2 separate regions of the Homo sapiens genome follow, and region 1 is linked to region 2. The links come from fine-mapping of genetic effects on gene expression. A gene starts in region 2. The other region holds a variant in brackets. All regions are shown on one strand. Distances are between the middles of the regions. Region 1 overlaps MFSD8 (major facilitator superfamily domain containing 8). Region 2 holds the start of PGRMC2 (progesterone receptor membrane component 2).

Evidence for each region. PIP is the estimated chance that this variant, and not a neighbour inherited with it, causes the effect. A credible set is the group of variants that fine-mapping cannot tell apart.
Region 1: its variant is the best candidate, but not a certain one, in a credible set for the expression of PGRMC2 in whole blood (INTERVAL, PIP 0.55).

What each region holds. Positions count from the first base shown.
Region 1 is chr4:127,934,078-127,944,718 of GRCh38, forward strand. It overlaps MFSD8 (major facilitator superfamily domain containing 8), which reads right to left. Exons shown (of 12, transcript NM_001371596.2): 4 at 9,675-9,915; 5 at 7,968-8,081; 6 at 5,776-5,920; 7 at 4,706-4,761. Among named protein-coding and RNA genes, the nearest start is that of MFSD8, 26 kb to the right of the region's middle. The variant A/G (reference allele first, on the strand shown) is at 5,045.
Region 2 is chr4:128,282,189-128,292,829 of GRCh38, forward strand. It overlaps PGRMC2 (progesterone receptor membrane component 2), which reads right to left and starts at 5,625. Exons shown (of 3, transcript NM_006320.6): 1 at 5,185-5,625. The coding sequence starts at 5,602. RefSeq lists silencers at 5,265-5,324, 5,505-5,554, 5,565-5,744, 6,065-6,254, 6,626-6,920.

The DNA.
Region 1 (10,641 bases), 350 kb before region 2:
AAAATACAAAAAAGAATTAGCCGGGCGTGGTGCCACATGCCTGTAATCTCAGCCACTTGAGAGGCTGAGGCACGAGAATTGCTTTAACCAGGAGACTGAGGTTGCAGTGAGCCAAGATTGAGCCACTGCACTTCAGCCTGGGTGACAGAGACCCTGTCTCAAAAAATAAATAAATAAATAACAAGAAATTAGTATTCGTAAAGATCCTTATGTTATCATTACCATTTTAAAAACCCCTATCATTTATATTTCTGCAAAGAAATAATCAGGATTTGACGGTGGTTTTATAAATAAGGAGGACAAAGTAAGTGTACTGACTTCTCATCTTGAACAACGCCTTAAGGTTAATACACATTAAGCTATTCTTGATGTAACTGAGAATCATGCAGACATATTAATCTACTCATATATATTCATCACACTGTTTTGTAATTTATCCACTTATTCAGAATAAAATAGTATTTTTACACAAATAAATACCAAAATAAGCCAGGTATTTTTTTTTTTTTTTTTTGGCGGGGGGGACGGAGTCTTGCTCTGTTGCCAGGCTGGAGTGCAGAGACCCGATCTCTGCTCAATGCAACCCCCAACTCCCGGGTTCAAGCGATTCTCCTGTCTCAGTCTCCCGAGTAGCTGGGACTACAGCTATTTTTGTATTTTTAGTAGAGATGGGGTTTCACCATGTTGGCCAGGATAGTCTCAATCTCTTGACCTCGTGATCTGCCCGCCTCGGCCTCCCAAAGTGCTGGGATTACAGGTGTGAGCCACCACGCCCAGCCTATGCCAGGTATTAATACATAAAATATTACAAAAATATGTTTATTTATGCTATCTTAAATTGTGTGTAGTGTCAGTTGTTGTTAGTGGGTGGGTGGGGGGGCTTTCCTAAGATGCAGTAAGTTTCTATGATTTTTTTCATAATAATGCCTGCTTTTCTATCTCAGGATTCTTGAGAAGGAGTTCCTCCTCCAACAATAAGTAGATTTGGAAATAGTCTGCTATACTTAAAGGGAATTAAGCACCTTGGATGCTCAACATAGCCTTATGACCTTCCTTTGTAATCACACAAAGAGAACTGGCCACCTTTGTCCAGAACCTTTGCCAGGGGTAGGCCCTGATGGTTGTGGCTCTTGTACTATTTTGGATAGACCTCTCTGATTCTTAATCACCACCTAGAAGTCAGTCTTTACTCCTTCAAGTCAGTATCAATATTGCCCCAAGTCAGACTGGAGTTTGCTTCATAATATGTGGTTAGTTTCCTATAGCTTCTACTCAGTGTTGGCTTCAGTGGGGTATCTCAGAAATGTTGCATCCTAGACTATGGGGATTGACTAGATATCCTAATTACACATTTTTTAAAAGACTACATTAGTATATGGATTCAAATTCTATGCAATTAGAAATTATAATCCTGTCTCATAATAACCTCTTTAAATTTGAATAGCTTTAAATTAAAACAATTATGGAAGTTTTTACCAGACATATTTTATGCAAACATTTATTGAAATTTAAAAATTTTATTTTATAAAAATTATTTTGAAGTAACTAGAAATCTCATAAAAGAAAACACTACATCTTCTCTAAACTCATTCCCATTTGTACTTTAGAACAGTGCTGCCCAACAGAACTGTGACATGACGGAAATGTTATTTATCTATGCTAATACAGTGGCCACTAGCCACATATACCCATTATTGAGCACTTGAAATGTGGCTAGTATGACAGAAAATAATTTCTTAAATTTACTTTATTTAAATAGCCACATGTGGCTAATGGCTACTATATTGGGCAGCATAGCTCTCAATCTTTGCTGCACAAAGTGTGATTTGTAGACCAGAAGCATCACATCACATGGTAGTTTGTTGTAAATGTAGATGCTCAGCATCTCACTAGGGTTGCCAGATTTAGTAAATATACAGGAGACCCAGTTAAATTTAAATTTCAGATAAACAATAAGTGTTAATATAAATATGTTCTGTGCCATATTTGAAAGTTAAGTATAAGAATGTTCCATGAAGTATTTGGATTGTATTTATACTTTTTTTTTTTCTTTTTGAGACAGAGCCTCACTCTGTCACCCAGGCTGGAGTACGTGGCGTGATATCGGCTCACTGCAACTTCTGCCTCCCAGGTTCAAGCGATTCTCCTGCCTCAGCCTCATGAGTAGCTGGGATTACAGGCGCCTGCCATCACACCCAGCTAATATTTATATTTTTAGCAGAGACAGGGTTTCACCATGTTGGCCAAGGGTGGTCTTGAACTCCTGACCTCAGGTGATCCACCTGCTTTGGCCTCCCAAAGTGCTGGGATTACAGGCATGAGCCACTGTGCCCAGCTGGATTGTATTAATACTAAAAGTTATTTGTTTCCAGGTGCAGTGGCTCACACCTGTAATCCTAGCACTTTGGGAGGCCCAGGGAGGCAGATCACTTGAGTCCAGGAGTTTAAGGCCAGCCTGGACAATATGGCAAGATCCTGTCTCTATTAAAGAAAAAAAAACCAACGTTATTTGTTGTTTATTGAAATCCAAATTTAACTGGGTGGGACATATTTATATTAAAACATTATTAAAATTTAATTGGGCATTCTGTGTTTTATTTTTTATTATAAATTATATATTTTTATATTTCTTTATTAACTCCCCTATTCTGAGAAGCAACATCCTGTGTTTTACAGGCAACCCTATTAAGTATCACCCTAAGCCTAATGAATCAGAATTTGCATCTTAACAAGGTTCCCAGGTGATTTCTAAGCACATTAAAGTAAATGAAGCACTGATGTATATCATTATCCCCTTCCAAGTTCTGAAATACTGATTTTTACATATCTTCCCTTTGTCATACCTCTACCTCACCCTCTTAACTTCCTCCGTCACTTTACCTGATAGCTCCTTGAAGTTAGCATCCTATTTTTTACCTTTGAAAAAAGGAGTTTATACGCACTGCTGGCACTTCACCTCTCATTCTTTGTGTTTTATTTTGAAAGTTTTCAAACATATTCTCACATATTCATTCCTCAGATTCAACAATCTTTTGCCACACTTGAATCATCATGCCATCCTTTCTCTCACTCCCTTTCTGCTGCCATAGTGTGTTTCACTGGGTGACTCATAAATTTTTATCTCTAGCTTTTATTTCTACTGTCAAAATTACAAATGCCTGTGGGATTTTTTAGTTGTTCTAGAGTAACAGCATATTCAGCTTGATCCAAATTGAAATCATCTTCTCTTTTCATCTAACCTCCCTTCCTAAATTCTTGTTCTCTCTCATTCTTCCAGGTGATCTAGAATCAAAACCTGGCAGCAATGTTGGCTTTCTCTAATCCTTAATATTCTCTATCCAAATCTCTATCTTGATTCCTCTTTCAACAACTCCTACTTATCCCTTCTCCATTCTCAGTCACTGCCCTACTTCAGGCCTAGTCAAAATTAATACTTTTACACTGTCTTCCTGAGTCATCCACACAATGTTCTCTTAAAAAGAAAAACACAAATATTGTACCTATGAAAAGCTTAATAAAGAAATTGTTTAAATTTGTTACTGGCATTGTATTTTTTTCACATTTGATACAGTTTCTTTTACTGGCTTTTCAGTAATGAAATTGTTACCAATGAGATATTACCAGTGAGATATAACCAATCTGGATTAGCCTCTGCATGGAATCAATGTCAAACTTCTCCTAGTTCAAAAACTTACTGTAGCTCCTCACCACTCTGCTCTACTACATTTATCTTCCACTATTTCTTTTGTGAAAATTAAATAAAAGAGCTATGAAAGTACCTGGTAAAATAGTAAAATAATACTATGTCTTTTCCACAACTTTATGAACTACTGAGGGCCAGGATCAGTCCTTGCATTCTTTCCGCAAGGAGGATATAATTAGTACCTAAATAACAGGTTTTTTTTTGGTAAAATATAGCTACTTACTGGGTTCTCTGGCTTATATGAATCAGAGAAGATCTAAAAGATGAAAATGTATATTTCTAAAGTATACCAAAACAACAAAAATAAAAAGGCAAAACCATACCCATTTTCATACTTAAGATAATAAAGAACTGCTTTAAATAGACATATTTATTTGGTAGTAAAGATATGGAAATCATTGCAAATATCTCAAAGGCTTTAGGATACTGGCTCTCTGAAAATAAGACAAAGCGATTTTTTACAATGTTTGTAACCTTGTCAATCATGACCACCAAATAACCAATATGGGTATGCCTCTTTAAAAAAAATCAATTTGCTCACGCCTGTAATCCCAGCACTTTGGGAGGCCGAGGCGGGTGGATCACAAGGTCAGGAGATCGAGACCATCCTGGCTAACATGGTGAAACCCCATCTCTACTAAAAATACAAAAAATTAGCCAGGCGTGGCGGCATGCGCCTGTAGTCCCAGCTACTCAGGAGGCTGAGGCAGGAGGATGGCATGAACCCCGGAGGCAGAGCTTGCAGTGAGCAGAGATCGCACCACTGCACTCCAGCCTGGGCGACAGAGCGAAACTCTGTCTCAAAAAAAAAAAAATAAATAAATAAATAAATAAATAAATAAATAAATAAATAAATTTAGGTCACTTTCAGCTTTGAAGATCTTCCCCAATCACCCACTGTGTTGTCCTCAGAAGCAAAATCGAAGTAAATACCAAACAAACAGAATCATTAGAAACACTTTGATAATGTTATATTAATTCAGCCAAATGGGTTAAAAGTACCTTCTTCAAAATTAATACTTTTACACTGTCTTCCTGAGTCATCCACACGATGTTCTCTTAAAAAGAAAAACACAAATATTGTACCTATAAAATGCTTAATAGAGAAGTTGTTTAAATTTATTATCGGCATTGTATTTTTTTTCACATTCTAATATAGTTTCTTTTATTGGTTTTTCAGTAATAAAACTGTTACCAATGAGATATAACCAATAAACTTAAGACAGAAGTTACAATTCTTATCAAATTATCATAAACAGGTAAAATGAAAAAAATCCAACTCATCCTAAAGCATACATGATCTACTTTAGTATTTGAAGTTTTACAGTGATTATAAACATT[A/G]GTAATAAATGTTTTTAGACTATTGAATAAAGCACTCTAAATAAAACATAATTTTAAAAAATTTTTTCGAATATATAAAAGATAAGAGATATACATTACTAGTAACTTTTATATTTAAGACTGATACAAATCCATTAATCTATTTAAAATGTTACTTCCATGCCTTTCCCCTACTTAGCAACATGTAGTTAGTAAATCAAGACCAAACCTTGAGGCCGGGCACAGCCTCACATGGCCTCATGCCTGTAATCCCAGCACTTTGGGAGGCCGAGGTGGGCAGATCACTTTGAGGTCAGGAGTTCAAGATCAGCCTGGCCAACATGGTGAAACAAAAATTAGCTGGATGTGTTGGCATGCACCTGTAGCCCCAGCTACTCGGGAAGCTGAGGTATGAGAATCCTTGAATCCGGGAGATGGAGGTTGCATTGAGCCGAGATAGTGCCACTGCCCTCCAGTCTGAGCAACAGAGTAAGATCTTGTCTCAAAAAAAAAAAAAAAAAAAAAAAAAAAACTTTGAATCTTCAAAGACCTTCCTTTTCTGTTCTCATTTATCAGGTTGTCTTTTGGTTGCCAGTATTACATGCTTTAGTACTACCTGACCAAAAAATATAAACAAACTATAGACATAAAAAACTACGTACACTTCATAAGGATAATTATCTTCCAACAATTACAAAGCTCATTAAATTTCACAATCTACAAAAATAGTTTTATCATTTCTATCTAATTACCTTAGTATGGCAAGGATCAGAATAATATTTAAAATTCCCAGGAAGGCGCTAAGTAAAACTGGTGTTGTATACATGTTTATCTGCAGTTTAATCACATCCCATGTCACACCTTTTTCTCCAAGGAATGTAAAACAAGTCTGAAAAACTTATTAAGATAAAATTTTCACAGATGAATTATTATATGAGAAGCATAGGATAAAAAAATGAAAAAGACATTTACAACAGAATTGGGAACAATGTTATGGAATCATCCTTCTATATCATGCATTCTCAACAGATGGAATTGGTTCTTGATGGGGGGTCAAAAAATTTCCTCTTTTTATGTATAAAGCAGGTATGTACAGATATACATATGGTACATAAAAGATATATGACACATCTGTGGCACTAAAATTTTATGGGGTAAAGAGAGTAGGAAAAAAATACCGAAAAAGGCTCCTTAGGGAGACAATAATGAAAAAAAGGTTGTGAAACACTGATTTACATGCATTCACAAGGAATTGTATCTTACATAACTTCTCAGTTTTTTACAAAACATCTCCATAGGCAATTTAAATTATACAATTTCTTCCAAAAATTAATTATAAAGGTTTAATCAGCTTCATTATAAGAATGAAAATATCATATTTTAGACCAGATATCTTAAATATTATTCTGTATATGGTATATATATATATATATATATATGTGTGTGTGTGTATATATTTATTATCATTTGACCATAGTATTATATACAAGTAAAATGAAAAAAAAAAATTATTTCATCCAAAAGCATACATAATCCACCTTAGTATTTGAAGTTTTTTTTAGTGATTTTAAACATTAGTTAGAAGTGTTTTTGGACTGCTGGATAAAGCACTCTAAAGAAATATGAAGTGGCAAAATCTAATTTGGATCTGTGGCAAAAACTCAATTGGAAGAGTACTGGTTTGCTCTTCTGATTTAGATTCAATATGTGGCTCTATAGTAATTCACATATAACTCTAGGGTGAGGACTAAAATATTGCACCTACCGTACTTAGAACAGTGACTAGCATACAGTAAGCACACAATAAATGTTAGTGCTTGTTGAGGGCTTATTATTGGAAAAGTCATCGAAGCTTTTCAGGCTTACATTTACTCATCTATAATGCAAAATTTTTAAATGACATAATCTTTAAAATGCTTTTAAGGTGGTAAAAAATATTTACTAAGAACATAAGTCTATACCAGGTATTATGCTAGATACTGAGGGTAGACTGGTAAATAAAGACTCAAACCATGTCCTCATGTACTTTACAATATAGTATTCAAGTTCAATTATTCTACATTTGTGCTTGTATTTGTTTCAGGGTACAAAACTGAAATAGTAGATTTTGGTGAACAGTGAATTAGATTCCCTTCTGTTGAGCCTTTTCTTTTTGGCTAAATAGAGGAACGTAATGGAAACTGGGGGTGGGAGATGGGGTGTTAATGATGAAGTAAGCTGAGTTGGATTCAAACTGATAATATTCATAACTTCAATATTCAAAATATGGACCAATTATATGGTTTTTCAATATTATTCTAGGCATGAAAATGACTGATTCTTTACTCAGCAGAAAATTAATTTGCCTTGAGGAAATACTAAATCTCATTAATTTTTTTTGAGACAGAGTCTCGCGCTTGTTGCCCAAGCTGGAGTGCAATGATGTGATCTCAGCTCACTGCAACCTCTGCCTCCGAGTTCAAGCGATTCCCCTGCCTCAGCCTCCCAAGTAGCTGGGATTACAGGTGCCCGCCACCACACCTGGCTAATTTTTGTATTTTTAGTAGAGATGGGGTTTCACCATGTTGGCCAGGCTGGTCTCAAACTCCTGACCTCAGGTGATCTGCCTTCCACAGACCCCCAAAGTGCTGAGATTACAGGTGTGGACCACCACGCATGGCCTCACTAATTTTTTTAACACTCAGCAAAAGGGTGACCTTGGACAATTTACTTAGATTCTCTATGCACTGGCACTCTCAACTATAAAAGGGGACTAATAGCACTTAATTTAGTGGATTGGCATCAAGATAAAATGAGTGTAGCCTCATTCCTGGATTAAAAAAAAAATTAGCTTTCCTCCCTTTCCCTTCAGCTATGAGTTTTTATACTTGGGTTACACTGAATATTTAAGCCTCAAAAGTTTTCCCAATTCAAATTCAAGTAATGACATGTGAAGAACACCTACCTGGACCTAGAATAAAACCTAATGCTTGACACATGCTTATGTTTGCCATGGAACTTGTTCTTTCCTGAAGGGAAGTAGCACCAGCAGTATATGATCTAACAACTGCTACATTTCCTTAAAAACAAGACACAATAATCCAAAGTAAAAGAAAGTATCATTCAGCTTATAAAATTCAATCCAATTTGACTTTATACAGAAGAAGAAATCTTGGTCAACAGTACAGTCACTGCTTCCTCTTTATGATCACACAAAGCATGTAAGGTATTTTTATTAAGCAAATGCATCAATTAATGGACCATACTAGTTTTGGTAATATGAAAACAGTTAAAGATATCAATGAGTGAAAAAATGGTATCATAAGAAAACCAAGCCGGGCACAGTGGCTCACATCTGTAACCCCAGCACTTTCAGAGGTTGAGGTAGGTGGATCATTTTGAGGTCAGGAGTTCAAGACCAGCCTGGCCAACACGGTGAAACCCCGTCTCTATTAAAAATTCAAAAATTATCCACCTGTAGTCCCAACTACTCAGGAGGCTGAGGCAGAAGAACTGCTTGAACCCAGGATGCTGAGGTTGCAATGAGCCAAGATCACGCCACTGCACTCTAGCCTGGGCAACAGTGAAAAAAAAAAAAAAAGAATATCAAACTTACTTAGTACTAAAAAAGCACTGAGTGAATGGCATACCATTGATTACTACAACTGTTTTTAAAAGAAAAGTATTACAATATTACAAACTCTGTATGCATAGACATGTAATATAAGAAACAGAAAAAAATGCACTAACAATTTTACTGAAAATTTTCATTGAGTACATTACATTCAAGAGACTCTGTTAGGGGGCATAGGATATTTTTAAAGTATCATTAATTCTTTCTAATTGCAAAAAGTTTAGGTTGGGAATGGTGGCTCATGCCTGTAATCCCAGCACTTTGGGAGGCCGAGGCGAGTGGATCACGAGGTCAGGAGTTCAAGACCAGCCTGGCCAAGATGGTGAAACTGCGTCTCTACTAAAAATACAAAAATTAGCCAGGTGCAGTGGCAGACGCCTGTAATCCCAGCTACTCGGGAGGCTGAGGCAGGAGAATTGCTTGAACCCAGGCAGGTAGAGGATGCAGTGAGCCAAGATTGCGCCACTGCATTCCAGTCTGGGTGACAGAGTAAGACTCCGTTTCAAAAAAAAAAAAAAATTATTATCTGGTTAGTGAGAAAGGATAGAAACAGTACAATACTATAAGCAAGTGCCAGAGACATGTCAGAGAAGAAAAAAATCTCTCAAGGGGCAGGGTAGCCCAAGATGGCTTTGTGGAAAATGTGGAGCTTGAATTGGATCTATTTTTGTTTTGGGTTTTTTTTTTTTTAGATGGAGGTCTCCCTATGTTACCCAGGCTGGCCTCGAACTCCTGGGCTCAAGAGATTCTGCTACCTCAGTCTCCTGAGTAGCTGGTATTATAGGCACGTGCCACCACACCTGGTTTAAACTGAATCTTGAAGGATGAAGAATGATGAGAACAGAAGAGAAACTATAGGTAATGAGAACATCATGAGCAAAGGCAAAATGATAAGAAAAATATTTGTTTACAATGAGAAACATGTATGTTGAACTGTGAAATATGAGTTTAAAAGGGGATGAGACCAGTTAAAAGTGAGCCATAAATGTCAGAATGAATGTGAATATGACACAACCAAACATATACATACAACCTTACCTGCTCCAATTCCCAACAATCCACGAGCAACCAGCATGTAGTATTTATTATGAGAAGCTGGGATGTGGAGATATGCATAGAGGCAGTTGGCTGCCACGGAAATCAAGATGGAGACAATAAGAGGCTCTTTTCTTGGTCTATAATTAGACCATAAACCAAATATAGGTGAAGCTACCATTTGGCCAAGACTATATGAAGCAATAACCCAGCCCAAAAAACTTGTATCAGCTGTCGGATCAATCTGCAGAAAAAGGTACAGTGCTTTAAGAATTGTTATCCAAGAAAAGTTTAAAACTAAATACATTTGTCATACCATGTAAGATTTCCTATCAAAAAATAAAAACAATTCTAACGTATAAGTTTTATAACACTATTACTTATAGTAAGGGATTCAAACTTCTGACAATACAATTAAATGTGCTAACAATAGACTGTACACAAGGGAAAAATGCTTGGGAGGCTCATTTTTAAGAATGACTGGAAATTTTTGGTTCATATAAACCTTGGTAAGAAGATAATCACACACACTATATACGCATATAGCAATAACATCATGAAAAATAATATAAGCTATTCTTTAATTCTTGTAAATAGAATTCTTTAGACTTATGCTACCCTATACGTTAAACAGCCATTAGCGCTGTAAATCATTTTTTTTAAAAAAACTAGGCACAAGAGTCAAATGCATAAAGAAGATAATAAAAACACAAAAGATGATAGACAATTATCTCAATAAACCTGTTATAAATTCTTCCGTTCTATATAGACCACTCAGTATTCTACCACTTTAAAAGGGTTTACATATCATGATGAACTTAAGGGGAGAACCAAATGACTACAACTCAGAAAATAAAATACTTTCAGAAAAATAGAAAATGTTAGCTTAGAAAAGGCACTATTGTTTATTTTTATTTTTATTTTTTTTTTGAGACAGGGTCTCACTCTGACATCCAGGCTGGAGCGCAGT
Region 2 (10,641 bases):
CTGTAATGAAATCCAGGGAAGTCTTCCTCAGTATTTAAAAATGGAGCTGAAATCCTATTATTAAAGATCCTGAGACTGGATATAGGCTCCAAAAGAATACAGGAGTTATACAGTCATGTCTGTCTTGGGTGCACAGGGAAAGGAGTGGTCTATGTCAGAGTGTTGAAAAAACAATTAAAAGAACTTGAATGGCTAATTCCAGATGTTATTAAATCTACTCCTTTCTTCCACCCTGAATAACAGCTTCTGGTTTCAAGCTATCCTTTTATAATATGCTTTAGGATTTAACACAAATACGATTCCCTCAAAGATTAAAAACAACGGGATGATGTTGAATTCAGAGCCAACTAAGTAGTTATAATAGAAATAACTAGTAGAAATTTGAGCAGAATATAAAAAATCATCAGAAAACCTAGCTAATCCTTTTATCTTACTGGTAGGTAATAGATGCATATGGGCATTAGCCCAAACAACAAAGCCAGTTGGCTTCAAAGCAAGAAGCTGGGATGAGAGGTGGGCAGTGGCAACTTTAGGACATCCATGAAGAAATAGGTAAGATTGGGTCCAGTTTTTATGATGCAACTCTGCAAACACAGAGTTTCCAATTCTGCAAACTAAAGTGTTAAATAAAAGTGAACAAATTGAAGATAAAGTTTAAAATGGAGGAAAAACACTTCAAGGTACATGTGTTCTTTTCCCCAACCTCCTAAATATTAGGCATCTCATGGGGTTCTTCTTACGTGACTTTTTTCTTTCAGTGGAATTTAAAAGGTAAGTTGGAAAAAATATAGCTTTGGTATATGTCAAAGAATACTCCACCTGGAATAAGGGAGCAGCAGTATTGCAAGGTTCAACAACGCAAAATAAACTATCAAAAAGTCAAGTGTATAATTTTTTGCCATTCCAAAAAAATAAAAGCACTGTTTTGGTAAAGTTCCATTGCAGTAATATTAAATAAAATTGTTAAAAATTATACTAGCTGTTTGAGTCTTCAAAACTTATGATTCTGTAAACATGTGAAACTGAATAGACTATGTTGTAATACAATGGGAAGGATTGAAGCTATGAAAATCTGGATTTAATTTTTAGTGTTGCCACCTACTAGATATGTGGCTTTGGGCAATCTCATAGGGCTGTTTGAAAATTAGCGATACTAAGCTCAATAAATGGAGTTTCCTCCTTCTCCTCCTCTGACCTTTAGAATCAGTGTTGTTTTCAACAACTCTCTGGGAAGACAGAAATACTCTAAGAGGTGCCTTGTTAGTGCAGTAGGTGGCACGCCAGTCTCACAATATGAAAATATACAAAGTGCACTGTCCAAAATGGTAGCCATGGTGGGCTCAGCACTTTATATGTGGCTAGTGTTACTAAGGAACTCAATTTTTAATTATATCTAATTTTAATTAATTTACTTTTAATTAGCCACCTGGGGCCACCATTTTGGGCAGTATAACATAAAGCCATAAAAGCATTTTTTTTTTTTTTTTGAGACAGAGTCTCGTTCTGTCATCCAGGCTGGAGTGCAATGGCGAGATCTCAGCTCACTGCAACCTCCACCTCCTAGGTTCAAGTGATTCTCTTGCCTCAGCCTCCCCAGTAGCTGGGATTACAGGCACCCACCATCAAGCTCAGCTAATTTTTTTTTGTATTTTTGTAGAAACAGGGTTTGGCCATGTTGGCCAGGCTGGTCCCGAACTCCTGACCTCAGGTGATCTGCCCGCCTTGGTCTCTCAAAGTGCTGGGATTAAGGCATGAGCCACCGTGCCTGGCCTTTATTTTTTTATTTTTATTTTTTTTTTTTTAGTAGAGATGGGGTTTCACCATGTTGGACAGTCTGGTCTCAAACTCCTGACCTCAAGTGATCCGCTTGCCTCAGCCTCCCAAAGTGCTGGGATTACACGCGTGAGCCACCGTGCCTGGCCGAAAGGCATGTTTTTTTTGAGGCTTTAAATCCTTGGATTTATGGGAACCAGGGAAGAGTATAAAGAAAAACAACAGTAAGATTCTCTACAAGTTTATCACAGGATGCAGTTTACTAGAAATAGTATAGATAAGCTGTGTGGTAATATCCATCTGGATTTATTAGACATACATGTAATCCAAGCCAATTTACCTAAAATACCTAGACCTCAGACTCCCCACCTGTAGAGCAGGAATACTTACCAACTTCACTGAGGAATTATGGAGATAAAAAAATTAATGGATCTGATATTGTGGGTGCTTAACGAATCTGGTTTTCTTTCTCCTCCTGTATTCAGTTTTTTACATGACCAAACTTTCCTCACCTGCTGGCCAAGTGCCTGATCTGTTACTAAATTTAATATTGGCAAATACAGTTAATGCCAACTGTTTGCCAAAATGTGTATACTCCACCAAATTACACTGTCAATATTTAATTAAGAGCCTGAACTTTAAAAATGTATGACTAAAAATAAACACATGTTTAGCATTATGGAAAAATCTCACAAAATTTAATCCTAAAACCATTATTGTGAAATTAGGGTAGATATTGGCTAGGCATAGAAACTAACAATTACTGCTTCTGAATTATTCTGCTACAAAACTGCTTAATTTATGAGGATGAAAATAAAAATTAAAAGCAAAACTGAACTTGTATCTGTTTTATAGCCAGAAATTTGGCTTTAAGATTTTTTGAAAAGTACTACTTATTACATTTTCTATTAATATGCAATATCAACATATTCTAAGCCCATAAAATGATCTGGCTTTCTTTAAGGTTCCTTTCAATAATAAAATATTCAAATATCTGTTATGTTGTTGATCAACTGTAGAATACTAACTGTATATCACTCTTAGGCTGTTCAACAGAACCTAGGAACTGGCAGAAACTAATCTAAAACTGACTTCTCCATTGTAATCTCAAGAGCCTCCCTCAGTGCACATACCATAAAAAAGCAATCTACCACCTATGACTCTTAATTTTTAATTTTTTTTTATACCGAGTCTCTCTCTGTCGCCCAGGCTGGAGTGCAATGGCGCAATCTCGGCTCACTGCAACCCCCACCTCCCGGGTTCCAGCAACTCTCCCTGCCTCCGCCTCCCGAGTAGCTGGGATTACAGGCACCCGCCACCACGTCTAGCTGATTTTCTTGTATTTTTAGTAGAGACGAGGTTTTGTTATATTGGCCAGGCTGGTTTCGAACTCCTGACCTCTGGTGATCCACCCGCCTCGGCCTCCCAAAGCACTGGGATTACAGGCATGAACCACCACGCCTGGCTTTAATTTTTAATTTCTATCACAGAACAAACGTTTGCCACTGGAGGCTGCCAAACTGTTTCTATGACTGTCTCTCTTAGCTATTTTCAGATACTGCCAAGGCATAATGTGTGAGGACTAATACGATTCTTTGTACTAATACTTTGTTTTCTTCAGTGGCAGTTCAGACAGGGTACAAAAGCTGATCTTTTAGCTGGGTAAGGTCTATATTAAAAATTTAAACCTGTACAGGATTTCTAATCACTTAACACATTTTAATACCAATGGGGGAAAAGCTTGAACTAGGTATAAAATGCTGTCTAAATCCTTGATTTAAAAAAAATTTACTTCGCTTGGCCTGTTTAAATACTGTACTTTGGCCCTGTTCTCTTGTCCCACGTGTGCTTAAGTAAACAAAAATGTATTAACCATTTCAGTTGATATAAGTAGGCAGACACCTTGTGTTCACATTTATGTAACCAGAAGCAAAAACTCTGTAAGCTATGTATTTACTTGGTTGGATTAAATGTGTATATATACACAGAAGTACAAACAACTAAGAAATAAATTACATAATTCAACACCAAAAATCTCCTATTTCTTATCCCTATTCCAATGAACAAACTACAAACCAAAGCACTTCTAAAATATCTTCCAGCTATCAAGCACTGAAATCAGAAGTATATATTTTTAAGTGTCAATAAATCTTATACACCTACAGATTAAATTAAGGAGAAAACCAGCTTACTTCCAGACTGCCAACCCTATGACTTTAAGGCTTGGAGGTACTCTCTCCAATAACAGGTCACTTTAGGTCTCTAATTTAATTATTTATTCTTATTGTAGTCACCACTTTTTTTTAAAGCTTAGTATTAATCAGTGCACAACCAGGATGCACAATGTTGCTCAACTGTATGATATACCAACAGGTTCCATGAGTCTGGGGTTTATTAACATAATCCAAAATGTATGCTACAACCACACTGTAAAAAAAGGGCGTCTAAATCAACTACCCTACACAAAGTTCCCTGAAAACAAAGTTCTCTCAAAACAAAGTTCTAAAAATCTTTAACTTGCATAACTGGCACATGGGGGTATAAATCTACAACTCTTCTAAGTTTTTTCTCCTTAGTTCTGCTAAGTGAAAACACAAGTCATTATCAACGTGTACTTGAAAAGAGAAAAAAAAAGAAAAAAGAAACCAGAGACACGCCTGCTGGGTATAGGAGCTCCACCCCCAAAACTCAAGGTGAATATCCTTACCAGTCTTTAATAAGCTCTGCATTCTGGTCTGTTCTCATCCCACATACCTTGTTAATCATGGAAAGCAACTCCGAACTAAAACTGGTTTAAAGAGAGTCCGAGGTGTTGCTTATACGTCTGGACTTCAGAGACTGGAGGGTTGGGACTTTACATGCCCCTAAACGTGGCCTTACGGAGTAATACAGCGAGGGAAAAAAGGAGATCAGTGGCAAAAAAAAAAAAAAAGGGGGCAAGGAAAAGAAAACGGTGAATTACAGAGCCCAAAACTTTAGTTTAGGTCCCAACTTCAGAAATCTCCCTTCCCTGGTGCCCCATCCATCCCAGGAATCAGGAGACTCAAAAAAGGTTAAGGGCCAGCGTTGACCTGTGACAACTAAAACGATTTTGAAAAATCCAGCCAAAGAAACAAAAAAAAAAGGCTGCGAGGAGAAATGGGATGGAAGAAAGATGAATGCTGAGAGCTGGTCTCTGGGGCGCCACCGGGGACCCTGGTTTCGGGGGAAGAACTGGAGGTGCCCGTAGCTGCGGGGGGACGGTGTGTGTGTAGGGGCGGGATGGGCCGTCCCAGGTGCGGCGGCCGAGGCGCGGGGGTCCCGGAGACGAGAAGGCTGGGCAAACTAACCCGGTGCCCAGAGGCCTCCCTGTCCGAAGGGGGTTGTGCTTCAGCTGCAGGGGGTCCTTCCCCTCCCCTTCCAACTCCTCACCCGGGCCGTAGAACTTGCTGCCTTTGGTCACGTCGAAGACTTTCCCATTGACCGCGAGCAGGATGCGCGGGTTGCGGGAGCCGTCGTACTGGCGCAGCTGCTCCAAGCTGAAGTCCCGCTTCTTCATGCGAGGCAGAGAGGTGGCGGGGCTCTCCTCGCCCGCCCCGGCCCCGGCCCCCAGACCCCGCCGCCCCCAGCGCACCCACAGCCGGTAGGCCCCCAGCAGCACCAGAGCCACCAGCGCCACGTTCAGCAGCATTTCCCCGCCCCCCGTCAGAAGCGCCAACGCCGCCGCCGCCCAGCCTCCCCCTTCCGCTGCCGCTCCCGCGTCGCCTGGACTCTCGCTGCCGCCGTCGTTGCTGCTCTCGCTGCCACTCCCCAGGGTGCCTAGCTTCACGTCCCCATCACCAGCCGCCATCACTGCCCGCCAGCGCCTTCCTCCTCCTCCCCGCCCCCTGCCCTCCCCAACCCCACGGCCGGCCCCGCCCATCTGGGGGCCTCTCAGCCAATAACGTGAGAAGAGGGGGCGGGGTCAGGCCGGCTCCTGATTGGGTGTTGACGGGGTAACGTTGTCTCGGATCTCCCGCCCCCTCCCTTCTTTCGCTGGCCGCGCACGCGTGCAACGCCCCGCCCACCTCGCCCCACACTTCCCTGCTCTCACTCCAAGCCTCCGCTAGGTTAAGTAGACGAGCCGGGCGGGTCTGAAGAAAAGATGCTACGACGGCCGCGCGGACGCTCATGGGCGGGGCGAGACCACAGCGCGTGCGCGGGCTCCTGAGCGCCACGCGCTCGCCTTTCGTTCGTAACCCCTGCGGGAGGCACGCCCCGCCCAGTCTCCAGGCTCTGCGCGTGCGCCCTGGAATCGCTTCCCTTCCTAGGCCTGCGTTCGCGTCCGCAAACTCCCGCCTCCTTGCGCTCCCCCCGCCCGGGAGCTTCACGTGCGCCTTGGCGGCCGCGGGGGCAGGTCCGGGCTGGACGCCTGGCGGAGGACGCGGGCAGGTGGCTTGTGGGAGGCTGGGGCATAGTTGAGCTGCAAGGCGCAAACCGATGAGGGGCGTCTGCTTTTCACCAGGGCGCCGTCGCTTTTGTCGGGAAACCGGCAGCGTAGGCGCGCAGACCGGGAAGCGGCAAGAAGATTTGGCCACGAGCTGGGGTCTTCCTGGAACGGAGAGAAAGCACGGAACCCGCACCGGGCTTCTCTGGCATCGGCAGTCTACGTGCTCCTCGCGCTGGCACCGAGCAGCCACTCCCCGCTGGGTTTGGCAAAGGCTGCTCTTGTAGAATTTTAAAGGATTTAGAGTCTCATTATTCCTTGAATCATAACTTCTGCGGCCGTAGGGAAGTGGACAGGTTGAGGTGGTCTTTCTATTCGTCATTCACTCTTATTTGCAGGTTCTGTTTCATGTACTTGGACGTCTTTTAGCCTCTCACACCTTGAAATTCTAGTGTGAAAAAGTGACCTCTGAAGTCTCACGCACTCAACTCGTTTGACGAACTCGTTTGACGTGTTCTCTCTTGCCCTTTGTTGTCTGTTGTCTTGAGTCTCATAGAATAGGTTTGAACCTTTCACTGTCGGTTTTGTAGGAGTCACTGAGGATATTGACGAGGCAAGTGACAGGGTCGACACTCTTGTAGAGAGGCTGTATAGCAACCAGGTGTCTGAAGGATTAGAGGCTGGGGAAAGAGTGGGAAAGCAGTTAGTAGGCTAGGGTATTTGTGCGTGAGGTGAGGAGACTCAGAGCTAGGGGAGACATTAGAGCAGGGGTTGGCAAACATTTTTTGTAAAGGGCCCGATCATATTTTAAGTCTCTGCCTTAACTACTCAGCTCTACCTTGTAACGAGAAAGCAGCCATAGACAATACTTGAATGAGTGTAGCTGTCTTCAGTAAAACTATGGACATTGAATTTTTAATATAATTTCAGGTATGAAATATTCTTTTGATTTTTAAGAAAATCATTGAAATATGTAAATTTTTTTTTTTTTAGTTCTGGAGAGGTGCAAAAACAACTTATAAGCCATATTGCTGAGCCCTGCATTAGAGGTACCTGAGGGAGAGCGACACAATTGGTAGTAAATGACCATATACTCTATCCTTCAATATGGAACACTTTTGGAAGTAAAGTAGGGCATTAATAATTATAGCCAGAGACCAGGAGTTATATCAGTTTTATCCCAGGCAAACCTAAAGGAATAGTCACCTTAAGGTTAAGGGTTAGGAGAAGTCAAAATTGCTTTAGGACTTGGTAACAGAAAATGGGAGGTGCCAGTGATGGAAATAGGAAGATAAAGAAGAAACTGGTTTTGAGGAGAAGATAGCTGTAGCAGTCCCAAGAGCTGTATACAGTTGAGACAACATTGATAGGAAGGAAGAAAGCACCCCAGAAGCAGGCCACTCCTTATATCTTATTGACCAGAACTGGGCTATTAGCTGTCCCTAAAGCAGTAACAGACAAGGAGCATGGGACATCCATGATTGCCTAGTGTTTATCTGGCTTTTTTAATTCTTATTCAGGACTGTGTTGAGCATTGCTGGACATTTACCATCTCTGGTTCCTTCCAGCTAAATGTCAGTACCACACCTCAGGCATTGTGACACCGTAAATCAACCGTTTTTCCCTCCCACCCCCCAGAGGTGTGGTACTGGTTGAGAACCAGTAGCTTAGACCCTCAGGATTTACCTTGGGGCTGAATTAGTGTGTGTAGGTTTCTTTTCCAGTTGGTTTGGAGGGAAGAGAGGAATTGGACAGTATTAAAGTTCTGCTGTCAAGGAAGTGGGCTGGGGAATGTTGGGTAGCTAACCAACATTGGCTGCCACGTGAAGTAAAAAAGTTTTCCTTTATATCCTTGATAAAATAGTGTCTCGACTTCTTCACACTTGAAGCCTTCCCAAAACCCCAGCTTTTTTGATTCTCATTGTAAGCCCCTTGAACTGGACTAGTTGGAAGTTCTTATTTTCCACCCTAAGTAACAAGCTCTTGTCCCAATAGGATACTCTTGCTTTGAGTACTGCAATAACTTTCCAATTGGTGACTTGCCGTCAGTCTTTTCCTATTTCATTCCTACACGAAGAGACTAGAACTGTGTTCTGATTTCCTTTGCTCAGACACCAATCTCCAGGGGTGCTCTGTAATTTGAAGAGGACAACTCAGAAAGCACTCAAGGGCCTCCATAAGTCCCTGAGTGGCTTCCCTGCCTTCCCGTTCCCCAGCAAACAATCCCTTGGATACCCTCTATTAAATGATACGTTTCCCCTTACAATACCTAGTCCCTTGCCCCATATATGCTATGTGTATTGCACAGTCTAGGACTTGACTCATGCTGTTTCCTCACGGAGCATGCCCTTCTTATTTCTAACCATACAAATTCCATGACCTATCCATTCTTTCAATTCTACTTCCACCTGAGGCCTCTATCAGCCCACATTAACCTACCTTCTTTGAATTTCTGTGTGTTCCTTACCTGTACCACCCATTTTGGCCTTTTATTTTATGCTCTTCTTGACTATTCTGTTATTGAAACTGTCCTTTAGATCCCAAGATTTCTACTTTTTCCCTGCGGATGCTTTTTTATTTTTTTTATTTTTGACTTCTTTCTACCCTCCTTTTCCTCTTACATCCCTGCTTTGCCTAGAGGACATCTACAAGAATCGTCATGTACATTCTTTTCTCCTGTTGTTAGCTTTTTTCCCCTGACACTTCATCTATTTACTGATTTACTTGTAAATCTCTGGAAGATATTAGTACTAGCCACCAAATATTTCTATTTCTTTTTCCACACACGTAGATTTGGATTTCCCTACTCCTTTTACCTCAAGAATGGCCAATGAAATGTGATTGGAAGTGACTTGTGTCATTTCCAAATAAAAGCTTTAAGAGCCTGTGGACATTTATCCTGCGCTGTTTCTTCCTGCCAACAGTGATGAAATATTTTAATTATCTATTGTCCCATGACAAAGCACCTTAAATCTTAATGGTTTAAAACAGTCACCATTTTATTATGTGTAACAGTTTTGTGGGTTGACTAGGCTCATGGGCAGTTGTCTAATCTTGCTCAGGGTCTCTCATGTGGTTCCAGCCTGGTATTGTTTGGGGCTGGAGTTTTTGGAGGCTCAACTAGGTTGCTAGAGTAGCTGAGCTTTTCTATTTACCCATGCCGTTCCAAAGACTCTCTGATTCACATGGCTTCTTCAGCAGAGTAGCCTGACTTCTTTCTTGCATGGTGGCTTAGGATTCTCAAATGCAATAAAAGCAAAAACTTCGAGGTTTTGTAAGTCTTAGGTCTGGAAATGACATGTTGTATTGGTAAAAGCAGTTACAGGGCCAGCTCAATTTTAAGGGGAGAGGAAATAAACACTTGATAGGGGTGGAGGGAGAGTGACAAAGAATTTGTGGCCATCTTTATTACAAAAATTTTTGTCAACCACAGAGTTACAGGAAAATGTGGCCATCTTTAATCACTACTCCAACGATGTTTCAAATTGAGTGGGCTTCCATCAGCCAGGGTCTCGGAGACAGGACAAAGTGGAAAACAGCTCCCAAATAACATACCTAGGTATATGAATAAGAAATACATCTCTGCTGTCCTGAGTCACTTAGCTATTTGGAGTTGTTTGGTATCAACTTTTGCATACTAATATAAAAATTGGTACTGGAAATAGGGTGGTGCTATAACAAAAATCTAAAATATGAGTCACTGACATATATAATAATTGAGTTAGAAATACTAGTGGTTGGTTGTTAGGCAGCATCCAGCTTTGACTCACTTATGCATTTCCCAGTGAACCTAGCTCAGAAGTTTGCACCATGATATTCAATAAATAATTCTTAAATAAGAGAGATTGTTTCTTGTAATTTTTCCCTATTTTAGGGAAAAACTTTTTTTTTTTTTCCATATCACATTTTTCTTGAAACATTGGAGTGCCACGAACATATCATTTGATGCTCTGTTTGAGTGCCACCAGTGAGTTTCCCGATGTTTAAGTTTGGCTCGTGGGCAGCCCACCTTCTTCCTCTCCACTTTCTCTTGGGAGCCATCCTGCTCATGGAAAGTGTGCTTTCTCCTCTGCTACCTCACACAAGTTTCAAAGGAGCTTGCTCCTGCCAGGGGAGGCTTGGGGTAAGCCAAACAGCATCAGCTCCCCGGGGGAAGGGAAATTTCAGGTTTGGAGCTAAGTTCACTTCCAGGGAGTGACAAAGCCTGTTTGAACTTTAATTCACAGAGTAAAAGAGTTCAATGTTGGCCATTAATGATTTGGACTTTAACATGAAGTTGGTACTGATTACTTTGGGCCATAATTTAGAAGGACAGAGTGATTTAATCTCTGAACTTTTAATTTCTCTCTGGAAAATTAATACTGGGAGAGGGTTAAAATCAAATTGAGAACATCTTGTTGGTTCTTAGTTATTAAAGTATTTGATCACATTTTAGAAATTCTGATAACTTTGGGCAAGCTGAC